Linked DNA regions of Homo sapiens. The protein of the gene in region 2 interacts with the protein of the main gene of each other region in a biochemical or structural test. Each region holds a gene or a part of one and is shown on either strand. Other genes may lie near its edges.

Region 1 (7,832 bases), on a different chromosome or scaffold from region 2:
GCCAAAAACCTTCAATTTATAAAAAGCAAAGTATCCATAAAATACAATAAAGCTAAGTGCAATAAGACAAGGTATGCCTATACTATACTTTTTTTGGTATTAAATATACTCTTCCCACTTATAAAAAAAAGTTAACTGTAAAACAGCACCAAGCAGGCCCTTTCAGGAGGTATCCGAGAAGAAGGCATTATCATCATAGGAGATGACAGGTTTATGCATGTTGGTGCCCCCGAAGACCTTCCGGTGGGAAAAGATGTGGAGGTAGAAGACAGTGATGTTGGTGCTATGGTTAGGCTTTGTGCCGCCACCCAAATCTCATCTTGAATTGTAGTGCCCATAATCCCCACGTGTTGTGGGAGGGAGCCAGTGGGAAGTAACTGAATCATGGGGGTGGTTACCCCCATGCTGTTCTCATGATAGTGAGTTCTCACGAGATCTGATGGTTTTATGAGGGGCTTTAGCCCCTTTGCTCAGCATTTGTCTCTCCTGTTGCCATGTAAAGAAAGACATGTTTGCTTTCCCTGCTGCTATGACTGTAAGTTTCCTGAGGCCTCCCGAGTCACTGTGAGTCAATTAAACCTCTTTCCCTTATCAATTACCCAGGCAGTTCTTCATAGCAGTGTGAGAACGGACTAATACAGTTGGTGATCCTGATCCTGTGTAGGCCTAGGGTAATGTGTGCTTGTGTCTTAGTTTTTAACAAGAAAAGTTTAAAAAGTAAAAAATAAAAATAAAAAAATTAGAAAAAAGCTTATAGAACAAGGATGTAAAGAGAGACAATATTTTTGTACAGCTGTACAATGTGTTTTAGTTTTAAGTTAAATGTTATTACAAAAGAATCCATTTTTTTAAGTTTATAAAGTAAAAGTCAGCTAAGGCTTATTACTGAAGAAAAAGTTTTTTATGAATTTAGTAAAACCTAAGTGTACTGTGTTTATAAAGTCTACAGCAGCGTACAGTAATGTCCTAGGCCTTCACATTCACTCACAACTCACTCACTGAAAGCAACTTCCAGTCCTGCAAGCTCCTTTCATGGCAAGCACTATACCAGTGTACCATTTTAAAAAAATCTCTTATACCTTATTTTTACTGAACCTTTTCTATGTTTACACTTGTTTAGATACACAAATACTTACCATTGTGTTATAATTGTATTCACTACATTTAATATGCTGTACCGGTTTGTAGCCTAGGAGCAATAATAGACTATACTAAGGTTATAGCAATAGTCTTGGCGTGTAGTAGGCTACACCATTTAGATATATGTAAGTTCACTCTACAATGGTCGCACATGACGATATCACCTAACAAGACATTTCTCAGAACATATCCCCATTATTAAGTGATATATAAACTGTATAAGCTTCAATCATCTGACCCTTCTGCAGATCTAATATAATGTGGGCCTCCCGTGCATATGCACGTAATTAAAATGGCTCTCCTCCTGTCACTGTCTAATGTTCATTTATTTTAGATTCAGTTATCAAAACTTCAGAGGGACTTTTCTCTCCCTTTAGTAACCTGCCCAATGCCACAGGGCATGGAAGTGGCAGAACAAGCACTAGCATCTACTGCCATGCAGTCTGACTCAGTTGCTTCCTTAGTCATAAAGCTCTGCCTCAGGTGGTAACAGAAAGCTGCTTAGGTAAATTCATGCAAGCCCTAGAAATTCCTAACCCAGTGAGGCTTCCCTCCGGGCCTGGGCACCTAGAGAGATCCCAGGAGCCCAGGACCAGCCTCTACCTGTAAAGTGAAGAATCTCCGTCCATTGTTTGCAGATGTAGATCTGGACATCCGTGCCCCCAAGAGCCAGGTAGGTACCACTCTGGTCAAAGATCAGTGACTTTACCTGCCAGAAATAGAAAGAGAGAAGGTCACACAAGGGGAACAGAAACTATGGGGCAGTTGCGGATAAGCAGAAGCAATTAGATTAATTCAATAAATAATTGACAAACAAGGAGACACAATGGAAAGCTGGGCGGAGGGGGAAGGGCACACCTCAAAGTTGTTATCCAGCTGCAAAGTCTTAAAGTTCTTAAGCTTGCGCAGATCCCAGAGCTTGACAGAGGAGTCATCAGCCGCTGTAGCCAGGTAGTAACCATTCTCAGAGAAGGCGATGCTAGTGATGGGGCCCGAGTGGCCAGGGAAGTTGGCCACATTAGTACGTTCCTACAGTGGCGGTGGGTAGTAAAATACGTCACCCACAGATCATGAGAGGAAGAAAATGGGGCTCACCAAACTCCTACCTGAGATGTCCCTCACGTCCTTCCAGGAAGGACAGCCAGCGGGACCCCCCAGACCACACCATCATATCACACACGCACAGCCAGTGTCTCTCCACCTTCAGGGCCAGGTGCCACAAGCACCTAATTAGCACTGCATTGTCACAAACACTCCCTCTGGCCCTGGGCCTCAGATGGAGGCCTACCATGTCCTACCTTCAAGTCCCAGATCTTGATCTGAGAGTCCATGGTTCCTGTTCCAAAGATGAGTCCGTCAGGGTGGAACTGTGCACAGGTGAGAGCTGTGGAGGAGGGAAGAGAGACCTGTGGTCAGAGCCCACCAGGGAGAGAGACTAAGAGCAGCAAAGGTAGGTTCCTTGTTCTTCACATTCCTCAGTGAACCCAGCACAAAGCCCGCACTAGACAGGTGCTCATGGTAAATATATCTTTAGAACAAATAAACAAATGACTAAATAAAATGTAAAAATAAATAATAAACAGCAAACAAAAAAGCTGAGTGCCTATGAGGCAACTTACAGCAGCCGGAGGTCTCATCTGTCACCTTGGTGAGCACACGCCCTGTCTGGATGTCAGAGAAAGCCCAGTACTGGGGAAAAAAAAAGAGACAATGGAGTCAGTGAGAAAGTGGGTCCCAGGTTCTGGTGGCCCTTCAGCAAGACAGAGCCCCTGGTTTGGCAAACCCTGGCAAACATTCTCCTTTGAGGTTCTGGGGAACCAGCTGGGGTGGGAAGATGTTCCTGCCACCCAGGATGTTCAAGCTTGGGGACCAGCAGGCCTCTCCAGGGCACTGGCTGGGACCGCACCTGATCATCGGAGGAGCTCAGGAGATAGTCGCCAGTGGCATGAAGGCTGAGGCCTGTCACAGCACTCTCATGGGCCCGAACCACCTGTACACAAGAGGCATTGGGGACCGACCAAATCCTGATAGTGGCATCGGGGGAAGCAGAAAACACCAGGTCCTACAAGGAAAACAAAGACAGAATATCAGAGTCAGAAAAGAGATACAGACCAAAACAATCTTATAAAACGGGGCTGGGGATGCCCACAACTGCCAACAATTGCTTCTCCTTTCAGCTCTGCCCTCCCTGGAACCACCTATCCACCCAATGGTGCCCAAGACAGCCAATGGTAAACGCTATTAAAGTGCTAACTCATACAGCATCAGGGCTTGTGGAGGCGTCCTCGCCATCTAGTGGTAAAAAGGCTAACTGCAACAGAGAGCAATTTTCCCATTTCCAGGACCAAAGGAAAAATGTAGCTAGTACAATTGAGGGACTGAATTTTTTATTCTATTTCATTGAAATTTAAATAGCCACATGCAGCTAACTGCTACTGTACTGTATGGCACAGGTCTGAGCAGTACTGGGACTGGAAGGGGCTGCATGGCTGTATTTCAGTGCATTCCACTTTTATGGATTTCCAGGGTAAGTTAATTTTCCAAAAGATTTGGGGCAGGGAGAGAATTTCGCGTCACTCACCAATTTTTTGTTTAGTTAGGATATTAAAAGCCATAAGGTAAAAATAACTACCATCTTTTTTTATCAATACAATTTCATGAGACCTAACTATTAATACCCCATAAGCAAGAAAACAGTGCTCTCAATTTGAACAAATTTAGTCATGAAAAATTCACCATGTTATTCTTATATTTCTCATTTCCCTAAGGTCCAAGGGAAATCTTGACTGCGAAGCACTAAACCAACCATGTCCTGCAGCCCCAAACCCAAACTGTCTTAGGCTTAAAATTCGAATCCCATAATATCATTAATCTGGTCCCATGAGTTACCTTTACCCTGTAAACCAGAGGTTCTGTTTACAACCTACACCACTTTCAACAGTCAACATGATTTTTACCCATCTTGGAGGATCATGGGAAAGCAGATATATCTGTCCTCCTCGTAAGTGTGAGTTGAGATTGTGTTGAGCTTTGTTTTCTGTAGTTTATATTAGGAACACTATAAGATTTTTTCTTTCCCTAATATGAAATATTTCAATGAATATGCTTGTCAAACTACACATTTCCGTTCTCTCCCTGGCTGGAAGATCACTGCTTTAGAAGGTCTCACGCAGAGTGAAGGGCAATCTCCACAACTCCAAAGTGAGCCCCTCCAAGTGCCCACTCAGGAGTCAGAGTCAGAGCTCTTTCCCAGCCCCACTTCACAGAGACAGCAGCGGGGTGAGGGACAAACAACAGCCAAGGAAAGAAGAACCAAGGGTGGCGAGGAGAACCCCTTACCTGGGAAGGGTGAAACACCACGCTGGTGACCTTCTTGGTATGGCCTTTGAGGGTAGCCAGGATTTGTTCAGAACTTTTGTCAAACACAACGACATTTTTATCCGCCCCACCTGGAGAAGACCCAAAAAGACCAAACAATGAGTCAGGCCCACCCAGGCCCTTTTGCTCAAGGAAATGCTTTTGTTCCCATGCCCATGAAGAGGACAAGGAGCATGCGCCTTCCCTGCTGCCCCTCCCCACTTTGGCCTGCCGGGCTAGGCCCAGACTCTCACCAGTGAGGATCTTGTTGGTGTCGGACGGGCAGAGGTCCAGGGCCAGGATCCCAGGAATGCTGGCACTGTGCAACCCCTTTGCAGAGAGACACACCAAACCCTGTCACGGCCAAATCACAGCAGGCCACAAAGCCACAGACCTCCCCTACTGCCATCTCCAGTCACCCATGTTCTCAGGGGAGCAAGAGTTACTTCTATTCCTTATCCATACCTCTTGGCTATCTGCCTGGTACGGTAACTCCCTCACTGCATCACTAGGAAACCCACAGCTGGGCAGAAAGAGGAGCCCTGACAACTCAGCAGCCCAGGCGAGAAACAGCACCAGGAACAGCGCCAGGAACCTGGGACAGCTCTGCACTCAGCACTCCCCATGCTGGCCCGCCCACCCCAGAAACAAAACGGGAGGGCTGTCTCCAAGACAGTGGAGACCCAGACACTCACCACGTGGGATGCCACCTGCCGGTATTTGCTGAGCTCTTCTGGCTTCACCAGCTCCTCAGGCACAGTCTTCCCTCTCTGAGAAAATGAAAAGCCCCCAAAGAAGAGCAGCAATGAATCCAAGATTCAGCCGCCCTCTCTCTCCTAAGGAGTCAACCGCCTCCCACCAGGCCAGCTCTTTCTCCAGGCTTCAGAAAGAGAACTCACCTTCTTGCGCTCCGTGGTTAGCACAGTGGCTTTGTCTTGAAGCTGGGGAAGAACAGGCTCAATGTGAGACAAATCATCTTGCAAGGAGAAAAGTACATTAGATGCTGGTCACACCTGTGCTTTCAAAAGCAGCACCAAGAACTTGCTATCTGCCAACTTCTACGTTACAGGCTTAAAGGCATTCTCTCTTCTTACTTCCATCCCAGCTTTATGAGGGGGGTGTTGATGACCTTATTTTACAGCTGAGGAAACTGAGCCTCAGAGAAGTGAAGTCAATTGCCCAAGGTCGCAGAGGTGATAAACAGCAGAGCAAGAATAGAAGCTAGGACTGTAGAGCTCCCATAGGTCTACACGCCACTAAGCCAAGGGCTCAGACACATGCTGACAATTTGAACTGCTCAGAAAGACACTAAGAAGCCCTGCAAATGAGAATCCCACTGGACTTGCAATCAGGAAGCCCAGCTCTGCCTCTCAGATGTGTCTTTCATCTGCAAAATAAGGATTATAATTCCTATCCTATTGCCCTCATAGAAAAAAAACAAGAAAATATATAAAAGTAGTTTACTATCTGCAAAGAATCTCAATAACAATAAGAGCTAAAAGGTGCACTTATCAGTAATGAAATCTTTTAAATTCCCACAGCCTGCCTATACAGTGGATATGATCATATTCTCAGTTTAGAAGCTAGGGAAATGAGACACGTAAGGGTTGGCTAAGTAAGCCAAGGTCATAAAGCTTACAAGTAGTGGCATCAAAATACAAACCCAGGCAATCTGGTCCCAGGGTCCATGCTCTGCACCACTCAACTCCCAAAAGCACAGTGATTTTAGTCACGATGGACTCCAGACAGATGGTGAAAAGTAAGGGCCCATCAGCACTCCCACCAGGTGAGAGCAGGACTTACCTTCTGAATAATCTCTGGGGTCATTCCCACCAGCTCACCCAAATCCATTGGCTCACCCGCACCCTGAAGAGAAGAAAGGTGAGGGTGAGAGGCACAGAGCACCAAAGACACCTGCATAAGGACAGTTCTGTGGGCCACTGTACACAAATGGGCTGCTGGTAAGGGAAGGGGGACACTTACCACAACACTTGGTTGGGAACTTGGCACAGCCTGGGGCACAATGAGGCCAGCCTGTGGTTTCAGGGTAGCCAGAGCTGAGAGAAAAGACGATGTTAGAAATGGGATATTACAATGCAGAACCAGCCCAGGGTGGGGGATGGCAGGGGAGAGGCTGCACCTTCTCGGGCAGCAGTGACTTCCTTGGTGAGACGGGCAATGACACGGCAGGCGGCATCGTGCTGGTACAGAGCGTGTGACAGCTCTTGGCGGGTTGTCTGCAGCTGCTGGCGCAGAGTGAAGCTGTGCAGCATGACTGCATCCTGGGAGAAGCAAATATCATTGTAAGGTGAGGTGGGGGGTGCAGGGAGTACCCAGTGGAGTCAGCCCTTGGGGAGGGGATGCTGCCTCCTATCCCAGAGCCTAGACCAGTATCAGTGACCCAAACAATATCCGAGCAAACACGAATGTGCCGGCAGACACTCTTGAGCTCCTACCCCAAGCGAACCACTGGGCACACAGACAGGAGTGGGAGCCAGCTCTTTCCCATCCCCACCTTCCCTAACTTACTGGCAAATCCCAGCTGTCATGCCGTCCCCTCTCTAAAAGAGAATAACAACACTGCTGCTGCTGCTATTTATTGATCGCCCTCGTTGTGTCAGGCACTGTGCCAGACAGTCCTGCAGGATGTATTCAATCATTCAATTCATAACTCTAGAGCACCTACTATGTACCAGGTGCTGCTCTCAGTGCTGGGGATACAACGAAGAATAAAACAAATCCCTGATGTCACAAAGTTTACCCTCTAAATAATGCTCCATCCTTCCTACCCCCAAGTCCTAACCCAGCAATGCATTCTCTTCAAGTGGGGAAGATGCTGATTCTCTTGCAGGAACTCACCCACTCATCCTGCAAAGCTTTCAGAATGGCCGGGATGCTGGTGGCTGAGGGAGGCTTGGGCCGGATTGGGTGAGCAACTGCCGAAAGGGAAAGCAGGTATGAAGAACATAACCCAGGGGCCTCCCCCGCCATCACATCTTTTCCTTTTAGCCATAAACAGCCCACCATCTCTTCCTCCAGTGCACTGGCACCACCTCCCATCCTCTCAGGCTCTGAGCTAAGATGGCCCTAGACTAAGGCAGCCAATAGGCACCTTTGATGTCGATGAGCTGCTCCTCGGAGAGAGGCTGGTTGTTGATGGGGTCGGTACCATTCTCCGCAATGTACTTCTCGATGAGCCGCCGCTCATAAACATGATTAGAGACAGGGGATACACATGGGTGCTCCGGCACTTCGTTAGAGACTGTAGAGAAAAGGCTGGTAGTGAGCTTGGAGTGAAGGCAATCTTGGGCCTAGAGGATTCCTCATCTGCTATT
Region 2 (6,618 bases):
ACCACACCCGGCTAATTTTTTGTGTTTTTAGTAGAGATGGGGTTTCACTGTGTCAGCCAGGATGGTCTTGATCTCCTGACCTCGTAATCCGCCCTCCTCAGCCTCCCAAAGTGCTGGGATTACAGGCGTGAGCCACTGTACCTGGCCATCATCAGGCTAATTTTTTATCTGCTAATATGTGTAATTGAAAAGCTTCTCCTCCTGCCATCACAAAAAAAATTACCTTTTTTTGGAGGGAGGAGGGAGTGTTTGTAATTTTCCCAGAAACTACCATTATTCTACCATAGCCAATGTTGAATTTAGGAAATGGTTCAAGCTACCATTTGGGTAGCTTGATGGGAGAATAACTGGTTAATTTAAATTTATTTCAATGTATTCATAATTCATGCTTTTTTTTTTCTGAGCTTCCACAATTATATGACAAGCATTTCATTTCAACCTTTTTGCTAACATTTACTTAATTTGAGATTAATTACGGCCGGGTGCGGTGGTTCACTCCTATAATCCAAGCACTTTGGGAGGCAGAGGCGGGCAAATCACCTGAGGTCAGGAGTTTCAAGACCAGCCTGGCCAACATGGCAAAACCTCGTCTCTACTAAAAATACAAAAATTAGCCGGGCGTGGTGGTATACACCTTTAATCCCAGAAGCACTGTCTGTGTCTTGGATGGTAGCGAGACAAGATGGTGGATCCCCAGACTCAGGGCTTGTATACATAGGGAAGGGGCATACATGCTTCAGAAGGGATGTGCAGAACAATTGCTTAGGGTCGGGATTTATGGTAAGTACGAGAACATACTCAGGAGGCTGAGACAGGAGAATCACTTGAACCCAGGAGGTGGAGGCTGCAGTGAGCCGAGATGGCACCACTGCATTCCAGCCTGGGTAACAGATCAAGACTCCGTCTCAAAAAAAAAAAAAAAAAAAACAATTACAAGATGAGTTGATGGATGGAAATTTCATTTTAGATTGTTGGATGTGTGTGTGTGTGTGGTAATCAATGTAGAACTCACTGTGATCATCACAATTTTTTTTGAGACACAGTCTCCCTCTATCACCCAGGGTGAAGTGCAGTGGTGCGATCTCAACTCACTGCAACCTGCACATCCCGGGTTCAAGTGATTCTCTTGCCTCAGCCTCTAGAGTAGTTGGGATTACAGGCACACACCACCACGTCTGGCCAATTTTTGAATTTTTAGTAGAGATGGGGTTTCACCATGTTGGCCAGCCTGGTCTTGAACTCCTTACCTCAGGTGATCCGCCCACCTAGGCCTCCCAAAGTGGTGGGATTACAGGTGTGAGCCACCGTGCCTAGCCTGATCATCACAATATTTTGTGTAAAAGTCAGTCCTCATGACTTTTTGCGTCTGTGTGTTATTTTTTAAGGATCTTAAGGAGCCTACGTGGAAGCAGTGGAGAGAGTTCCTGGTCAAATACTCCTTCCTTCCATACCAGCTGATTGCTGAGTTTGCTTGGGACTGGTTGGAGGTCCATTACTGGACATCACGGTTTCTCATCATCAATGCTATGTTACTCTCAGTTCTGGAATTATTCTCCTTTTGGAGAATCTGGTCGAGAAGTGAACTGAAGTAAGTATGTTTTAATGGTTGTCACAACAGGGGATGGGAAAGAAATACCAAGTGAGAGAAAGATCCTCTTTTATTTCTCACACTTGAAATAAATCCTCCATCCACCCAGACCCTTCAGACTCTGCTTTGAGAAACCTAGCTTAAGCAGTGAATAGGACAATTACCTGTGTTTTGGGGGTGGGGGTTGTGGTGCTCATTGTTAAAAGTATTTTCCTATATGTCTTATCTCTATGCAATAATATACCATTTAATTTCAGGGGGAGGGGGGCAAAGGATTGTAATAATCAAGGAATAAGCAACTGAATAGAAAAGGGTCTGTTTTAAGGTAGGCAGGCCTGTGCAAACCTATCCCCTAAATCAGAGGAAGCTGAGGGGCTGAAGGAAGAAGCTGGCAAATTCAGTTTCTCAGAAAGAAACACTTAATAAGGCCTTGCCAACAGAAGCCCTGTCTGTGTCTTGGATGGTAGCGAGACAAGATGGTGGATCCCCAGACTCAGGGCTTGTATACATAGGGAAGGGGCATACATGCTTCAGAAGGGATGTGCAGAACAATTGCTTAGGGTCGGGATCTATGGTAAGTAAGAGAACATCAAGGCTGTTTCACCAAAGGGCAGGATTTACGTGATGTACGTGCTCTTACACAAGAAACATTAGATAAAACCAGAGATCTTAGAGGCTTCCCCCAAACCGGAGTTAGTGAGAAGTCAATATGGCAGATTAGCATCCAATATAGAGTTGCTTTGGCCTCCACAGGGTGCTTTATAGAAAATGCAGTAAGGTAGAGCATAAAGAGATCTCATGGGAAATTCTGTAGGCATGAGTTCTAATCCTGATCTGTAACCAACTAGGATAATAATAACTTAGGCTTCAAGCATGACTGGACCCTGAGACCCAAACGCTGTCACCAGTACTGACTCTTTCTCTGTCCCTCACAGCACTGTTCTTTCTTGTGTTTTCTGCCTCAGGCATCTCTCTTCATGTGGGGGCCCTTGTCTTCTCCACTCCAGACTTTGATCTGTGCAGCTTAACAAACCTCCAGAAAGAAAGCACTTCCTTCCCTGTGGCACTGGAAAAGGTCTCAGGGCTCACATGCCTTTGTTCTGATGGACCCAGGCTTGAGGCATGAGTTCACCCCACAACCAGAGGCTGGTTTCAGCCCTACCCAGACCACATGGAAAAGAACAAAGGAGAGAGAATCCCCAAAACTTAGAGGCTGTTGCCAGGTGCAGTGGTTCATGCCTGTAATCCTAGAACTTTGGGAGGCCAAGGCAGGTGGATCACCTGAGGTCAGGAGTTCGAGACCAGCCTGGCCAACATAGTGAAACCTCATCTCTACCAAAAATACAAAAATTAGCCAGGCGTGGCGGTGGGTGCCTGTAATCCCAGCTACTCGGGAGGCTGAGGCAGGAGGATCGCTTGAACTCAGAGAGGTGGAGGTTGCAGTGAGCTAAGATTGCACCATTGCACTCCACCCTGGGCGACAAAACGAGAGTCCATCTCAAAAAACCCCCAAAAACTTAGAAGCTATTTCCAGAAGAAAGGGACAGGCAGAAGTAACACTGCCACCCTTGCAGCCTTTTACCTTGACATTCTGACTCGCAGCCTTATGAATGGTTCTGAGAACCTAACAATCTCCCTCACCTTTCCAATGGTGACTCACTAGGTAAAAATAAAAAAAGAATCTCCCTCATTTCTTTCCATTTAGCAAACTCACTTATTTATATACAATATGCATATTTATGCCCCTACTGTACTCCTGGTTCTCTCCTGGGCATGGCAGATCTTTTGGTAAAGAAGACAGTCTATAGTGTGAGGCCCTACAGCCTAGCAAAGAAAATATGTACGTTAAAAAATAGATGGTCAGGCACCTTGGCTCATGCCTGTAATCCCAGCACTTTGGGAGGTGAGAGGATTGCTTGAGACCAGGAGTTCAAGTGCAGCCTGGGCAACGTGGCAAAACCTGTCTCTAAAAATACAAAAAATTAACTGGGCGTGGTGGTGCACACCTGTAGTCCCAGCTACTCGGGAGGTTGAGGTGGAGGATCACCTGAGCCGAGGAGTTTGAGACCAGCCTGGGTAACATAGCGAGACCTTGTCCCTACTTAAAATAATAATAATAATAATAATAATAATTAGCCAGATGTGGTGATGTGTGCCTGTGGTCCCAGCTACTCAGGAGGATCACTTGAGACCTGGAGGTCAAGGCTGCAGTTGAGCCACATTTGCACCACTGCACTCCCAGGCTGGACAAAGGAATGAGACCCTGTCTCAAAAGGAAAAAAAAATATGTAAATGTAACAAAGTGATGAAGCAGGTGAAGTTGAGGCTGTCACAGGGAGGCCTTGCCCAGTGTGGGGGCAAAGAAGCTCCCTGTAGGTCATGTCCTTGAGAGTTAAAAGATGGGTTGAGTAGGCAGAGGTCTCAGGCACCGGGGACAGAAGACAAGGACATTCAGCACGGGCAGCCATGCTCTTCCCAGCACCCAGAAAAGGCCCAGGGCCCGGACTCCTGGGTGTGGTCATGAGAAGCGCCTCCGATTCAGCCTCTTCTCTTCTTGTTTCAGGACCGTGCCTCAGAGGATGTGGAGCCATTTCTGGAAAGTATCAACGCAGGGGCTTTTTGTGGCCATGTTCTGGCCCCTCATCCCTCAGTTTGTTTGCAACTGTTTGTTTTACTGGGCCCTGTACTTTAACCCAATTATTAACATTGATCTTGTGGTCAAGGAACTCCGGCGGCTGGAAACCCAGGTGTTGTGACTGGCACTGCCCAGGCTGAGACTCTTCAAGTCCCGCTGACGTCTGAGCTTTGATGCTTAAGAGGGGTGAGGCAGGGAGCGGACTTCCTATTTTCTACCCTCAGTAAAACAAGGTGCTGCTTTGTATATCAAAAGCTCCAACCATGTCCTCTCCCCCTCAGCCTGTGGGTGGCACGAGCAAGGACTGACATCCGCACAGGGAGGATTGTCTGTTTGGCTGACACAGCAGCAGCCCTTCCCACCCAGCCACCTTCCTCACAGGGACTAGGAGGCTCAGTCCCCAACGGCTGGCAAGACTCAGGGTCCTCAGTGGACATGGTGTGGGTGACATCAGAAGGGTGCCACATCAGTCCCCTCCCCAACCTCAGTGACTGACAGAGGATCCGGATCTCAGAGCCTGAGACCAGGTTTATTGGGGCCTGGCCTGTCCTCTAAGTCAAGTTTAGGAAAACAAGGATAAGATTCTGTCATAGGCATAGAGAGTTGCACATAAAAAATACCGAAGAAAACCCAAAATTCAATCAACAATTCTGTCTTATTGAAGAGTTGCTAGGATTCAGAGTAAAACTCAAAGGATTCAGTTTGAGCCTAGAATGATGGTTAGACTTGTAGTCACTGGGCTTTTGTTTTGCTTTATGGAAATCATTGAAGGTCTGGATCCCTTTCTCTGAATGGAGAGATTGAGAGGGATGTCGGGCAGTTCCCATTAGATTTAGTGGCCTTCATGTTATTCAGAATTGTTTTGGTGATACCTCACCCCTGTAATCCCAGCACTTTGGGTGGGTGAGGCAGGCGGATCACTTGAAGCCAGGACTTCAAGACCAGCTTGGCCAACATGGTGAAACCTCATCTCTACTAAAAATACAAAAATTAGCCAAGTGTGATGGCACATACCTGTAATCCCAGCTACTTGGAATTGGAAATCGCCTGAACCCAGGAGGCGGAGGTTGCAGGGAGGGAGACTGCACCACTGCACTTCAGCCTGGGTGACAGAGGGAGACTCTGTCTTAAAAAAAAAAAAAAAATCATCTGTAAAATAAATTCCGGGATAGTCGTTTTGTTCAAGGAAATGTTTTGTAAATTGAGCTCACACTATATAATCTTTATTGTCCTATCCTGATGTATAATACAGCAGGTATAATTACACCAAGCGCTATAGTTATAAATATGGCATGAAGTGAACTATGGCCTTTTATTTCCTTCCAGTGTGAACACAGCAGGTGTGAGATGTCATCTTGGAAGACAGGCCTTGCAGAAATAGGCCTACATCCAAAATATTATCTTGTGACTCCATGAACCATTCATTAACCCTTTGTATCTTTGAGTGAAAATTTTACTCAAAAGTTGCATCTGGAAGTTCGAAGAAATTACTTGAAATAAAAATAAAGATTTCTATATAGATAAAACCTATATGTAGAGAAAAAGCAATTGTCTAGAAAACACAAAACTTCTGCATTGCCGGATAGAATCTTCTAGCCATGGGCCGAGCGTGGTGGTTCGCGCCTGTAATCCCGGCACTTTGGGAGGCCAAGGTGGATGGATCACTTGAGGTCAGGAGTTCAAGACCAGCCTGACGAACATGGTGAAACCCCGTCTCTACTGAAAATACAAAAATTAGCCAGGCACGGTGGTGCGCACCTGTAGTCCCAGCTACTTGGGAGGCTGAGGCAGGAGAATCACTTGAACCCAGGAGGCAGAAGTTGCATTGAGCCAAGATCATGCCACTGCACTCCATCTGGGTGACTGAGCAAGATTCCGTCTCAAAAAAAAAAAAGTCATCTAGTCAGTCTAGTCATGCTTAAATCCCCCAGCCTGACGCAGATACTGAGCCGAGGAGCCACCCTAAGGGAAAATGGGTTTTTTCCTGCTCGTGTTTGCACATCAAGCCCCAGGGTTGCTTGACTTTACCTATTTAATGCTTGTGACCTCCCATGGACACTCACATGGCAGTGTTTGCATATCCCTGGTCTCATGCCACCCAGGGGTTGCCAGTATCCTTTACAGGTGAATAGATGGAGGATGGCTGGCAAAACACCAAGTTGGCGCTGGCTGGCTTTGGCAGAGCTGGGCCTGGGCCATCCACCTCCACCCCATGGCCTCTCACATTGTCGCCACCTGCTCCCACACCCTGCTTCAAAGATGAGTAATACCCAGATTTGCTCAGGGACTGGGGCAAAGCCATGGCGTAGAGCAAACAGGCTGGGCAGGACCTTACTCCTTATCACCAGCAGGAGGGACGGGCACACTCAGATCAGGGGCCACAGGCTGCCTCTAC
Region 3 (3,216 bases), on a different chromosome or scaffold from region 2:
CCTGCCCACGAGAGCTACAAGGGAGGGGCCTGCCTGCCTAACTCCAGGCCAGGCCTGCCGAATGCCTCCTGCTAGGCCATCTGGAGCCAGATTCTCTCTCTCTCTCTCTGTGGTGTGTATGTGTGTGTGTGTGTCTCCCAGGCCACGTGGGTGGCTGGGAGCTGTGGGGTTGTGACCTGGCCCTCCTGGCGAGCCTCTGACTTGCCTGTGGTCAGTTTCACTTCTGACATCTGGTCAAGTTCACAGCTGGCTAGCTTCCTGCGTGGCCATTTTCACTTTCCCTCTCCAAGATCTGGGAGCAAAGGGCCCCTTCTCCTTCCCCACCTCACCCCATAGTGATACATGGGAACTTACTGGATTTCTGTTAAAACTTCCCCTTTTGGTGTGGGGGAAAAGAGGGCAGGAATTGACCGAATTGGAAATTATACCTGGGTCCCTGCCACACACCCAATCCCAAACAATTCAAACCATGTGTATTTCCAGAAAATCTCTTTGTACTATTTTTCTTTCTTTGCTATTTAATGTTCATCACTTAACGTTTTGTGTGTAAGTTTCAGGAGGGCCCAAGAAATGATTACACAGGAGGCAAGGAGGGGAGGTGATAGGAGGGTTGCTGGGGGTCTGGAGCTCATGGCCCCCAGCTCGGGGGCCAAAAGGGTTCCATCTCAGCTCAAGGGGAGTAAAAAGGGGCCCCAGAACCAAACACATGCTAAAACATACTTGCAAGCCCCCAAACCCCCTCCCCACCTGCTGGGGAGGAAAATAAATACACCCAGACTCTGTCCCACTCCCCAGGTGCCCAGGTGAGGGGCCAGCAGGTGAGTTTCCTCCCCTCATCACAGGTTGAGGTCAAAGAATTGCCATTTACTACAGTGCTCCTAGTCCCTTCCACAGGGCTGGGGGAACCCTGGGCTGGGGAGCGGTGGTTGTCAGCGCACAGCCTGCCTGGGGCTTGTCATGCTAAATAGAGGGGAGCCACACTCACTCCAACTTCAGGCAAAACAGAACAGGCCAGGGAGGGGGTGGAAAGTCCACTGAGGCCTCATGGCCCCCTTCTGGCCAAGCTCAGGAAAAAACAGTCCTTTGCAGGGTTGTCTAGAGCTGGGAGAAATCCCCACAGGTCACAGTCGAAGTCAATTCCTTCTTGCCGCATTCCCACACTGGCCCACTTTTCTTCATCACAACCTTCTGGGCCCAGCCAACCCCATGTTTGCAGGGAAGGGGAGGATGGGGGAGCATTCCTCCACGTGTAAGCCCTTGAAGACAGACGCCAGCTCCAGCCTCGGTCGGCAGTCCTTGGCCCGCCAAACCCGGGGGCGAGTGAAGACGGCCGAGCAGACCTCAATTCCCTCCGATGCTTCTCTGGCAGCTGCCCCGGGCAGTATCCAGTCTCAGCCCAAGAGAAAAAACTCATGGAGAAAAGTGAGATTTCTCCTCCTGTGTGTGTGTGTGCGTGTGTCTGTGTGTTGCAAGGTGAGGGGTCCTTGGTCCCTGACCCCTAGGCTGATTCTAGGGGCCAGTGTTAGCTCCGGGTCCATGTCGGGATGGAGGGCAGCAGACTGGAGCCATGCCACTGATGTCACACAGGCATGCCTGAGAGGGACAGGCAGAGGGAAGCAGCACCCTTTCCACGAACCCCAAACCTGACTCCATCATGGACCAGGCCCTAGGCAAGCATCCCATCTCCACGGGTGGGCAGGCAGTGGGGAAGGGGTGGGGGTCTGGAGACAGCGTGGAAGGCAAAGCTGACTTGGCTTCAAGCCATTTCCCAGAAGGTCACCTGCCACCCTCCCCTCGCCCTCAGGCAAACCTGAGGCCCCTCATTTAGAGAAGGCGGTGCCAGCCTGCACTTGGCCTCCCCGTTGCTGTCTGGCTTTGGGCGAATCATGGCCTCTCCCTGGGCCTCACTGACCTATATCCAAAATGAGGGGGGTGGGCTGAGCTTCGAAAACCCCTCCCAGCTCTGACAAGCCTCCGATCCTCTTCATCTTAGGCTGGGGTGGGGGGCAAGAGGGGCTGAGGGAGGGTTGAGGCCACTGGGATGCCACCCTTGTTCCCCAAGTTCACAGTGTAGAGTCCATGGCTCTGGTTCCTCGATTCCTCCCTCTGAGTCTCTGGGGCCTTGTCACTTCCCCCTAGTACCATCCCTGGTGTTGGCCCCCCATATATGACACCTGCTGTGGTGGGAGGGGCTGGCCCACCTAGCAGTGTGGGAGAAGGGGGCAGGTGGCCTGAGATGGTGACGGGGCAGGGGCAGGGTTGGGGAGGCAGCAGGGGCACTTCTCTCTCTGGACAGGAAGTGTGGTCAGAAGTGAAGGGGCCACACGGGCTGCACTGACAGGGCTGTGGTTTTGGGGCCTGGACTCTGAGGTCCTGCCCAGAGGAGCTCAGTTCTGCCAGGCGGGCCCCCCCCAAAGGGTGGGGGTGCGGGCTCCACAGGGGTTGGCTGGAGCATCGGTTGTCGGAATGTGGGGCGGGGCGGGGGCTCCCCGGTTGGGCTCACACCGGGGATGTGGCAGTGGACTCACTGCACAGACTCTCCACGAGGTCGGCTCGCTGGATGCGGCGCAGGGCGGCCAGGAGGGCGTCCAGTGTGGCGCTGTCCTGGGTGGCCCAGCTTGCAAGCAGGGCGCGAACGGGGCAGGCCTCATGGGTAAAGGAGTCTATGTGCTCGGGCTGGTAGCCCAGCTCGCCCGCCAGGTGCCGCCAGGTGTCCCCCGCAGAGCCGTTGAGAAGCTTCTCCACCTCCTCCCGCTTGGCTGGGGGCAGGCTGCTGTAGAGGCCTCCGTCACCCTTGAGGGCTGCAGAGAAACCAGAGGAGAGTCAGGTCCTACCCCTGAACTCCTTTCCCCAACAGTGGGCACTGGGGTGAGACCCAAGAAGGGCCGAGGCAGTGCTCCTCCCCATCTGGAGGCCTGGGGCCAAGACAAGGTCCTGGGTGGGGCACCAGGAAGTGAAGGCACCTGGGGGGACTCGTTGTCCCTTCCTCCTGTCACTCCAGCCCAATCCCTATCCCCATCCCTCCTCTCTTCCCCCCCAGCAATTAATCATGGCAGAGGAGGAGATAGGGCTTCTCAGTTCTAGACAACTACAGCAAGTGTCCCGGAGCTGGGCTATGGGCCACTAATTAGGGTACACACTTAACTACTTGTTCCCCAGAAGTCCAGGGCAAGAGGCTAATTGCAGCTACTTTGGGCAATAATTAGCCCCCAGGGG

Evidence for each region.
Region 1: the proteins of BFAR (region 2) and PRPF19 form a complex in vitro, tested with the Homo sapiens proteins (one study listed by BioGRID).
Region 3: the proteins of BFAR (region 2) and NGFR form a complex in vitro, tested with the Homo sapiens proteins (one study listed by BioGRID).

Annotation. Positions count from the first base shown.
Region 1 is NC_000011.10:60,896,103-60,903,934, forward strand, and holds part of PRPF19 (pre-mRNA-processing factor 19), read right to left. Parts: intron 7,760-7,832; coding exon 7,610-7,759; intron 7,434-7,609; coding exon 7,357-7,433; intron 6,780-7,356; coding exon 6,638-6,779; intron 6,555-6,637; coding exon 6,481-6,554; intron 6,364-6,480; coding exon 6,301-6,363; intron 5,439-6,300; coding exon 5,397-5,438; intron 5,268-5,396; coding exon 5,193-5,267; intron 4,828-5,192; coding exon 4,752-4,827; intron 4,590-4,751; coding exon 4,480-4,589; intron 3,203-4,479; coding exon 3,047-3,202; intron 2,830-3,046; coding exon 2,760-2,829; intron 2,525-2,759; coding exon 2,439-2,524; intron 2,170-2,438; coding exon 1,999-2,169; intron 1,850-1,998; coding exon 1,744-1,849; intron 1-1,743. UniProt on the Homo sapiens protein: Ubiquitin-protein ligase which is a core component of several complexes mainly involved pre-mRNA splicing and DNA repair. Required for pre-mRNA splicing as component of the spliceosome.
Region 2 is NC_000016.10:14,663,484-14,670,101, forward strand, and holds the end of BFAR (bifunctional apoptosis regulator), read left to right. Parts: intron 1-1,385; coding exon 1,386-1,588; intron 1,589-4,151; coding exon 4,152-4,344; 3' UTR 4,345-5,753; downstream 5,754-6,618. UniProt on the Homo sapiens protein: Membrane-bound E3 ubiquitin ligase that plays a role in several processes including apoptosis regulation or reticulum endoplasmic stress. Has anti-apoptotic activity, both for apoptosis triggered via death-receptors and via mitochondrial factors.
Region 3 is NC_000017.11:49,512,293-49,515,508, reverse strand, and holds the end of NGFR (tumor necrosis factor receptor superfamily member 16 precursor), read right to left. Parts: intron 2,802-3,216; coding exon 2,500-2,801; 3' UTR 501-2,499; downstream 1-500. UniProt on the Homo sapiens protein: Low affinity receptor which can bind to NGF, BDNF, NTF3, and NTF4. Forms a heterodimeric receptor with SORCS2 that binds the precursor forms of NGF, BDNF and NTF3 with high affinity, and has much lower affinity for mature NGF and BDNF.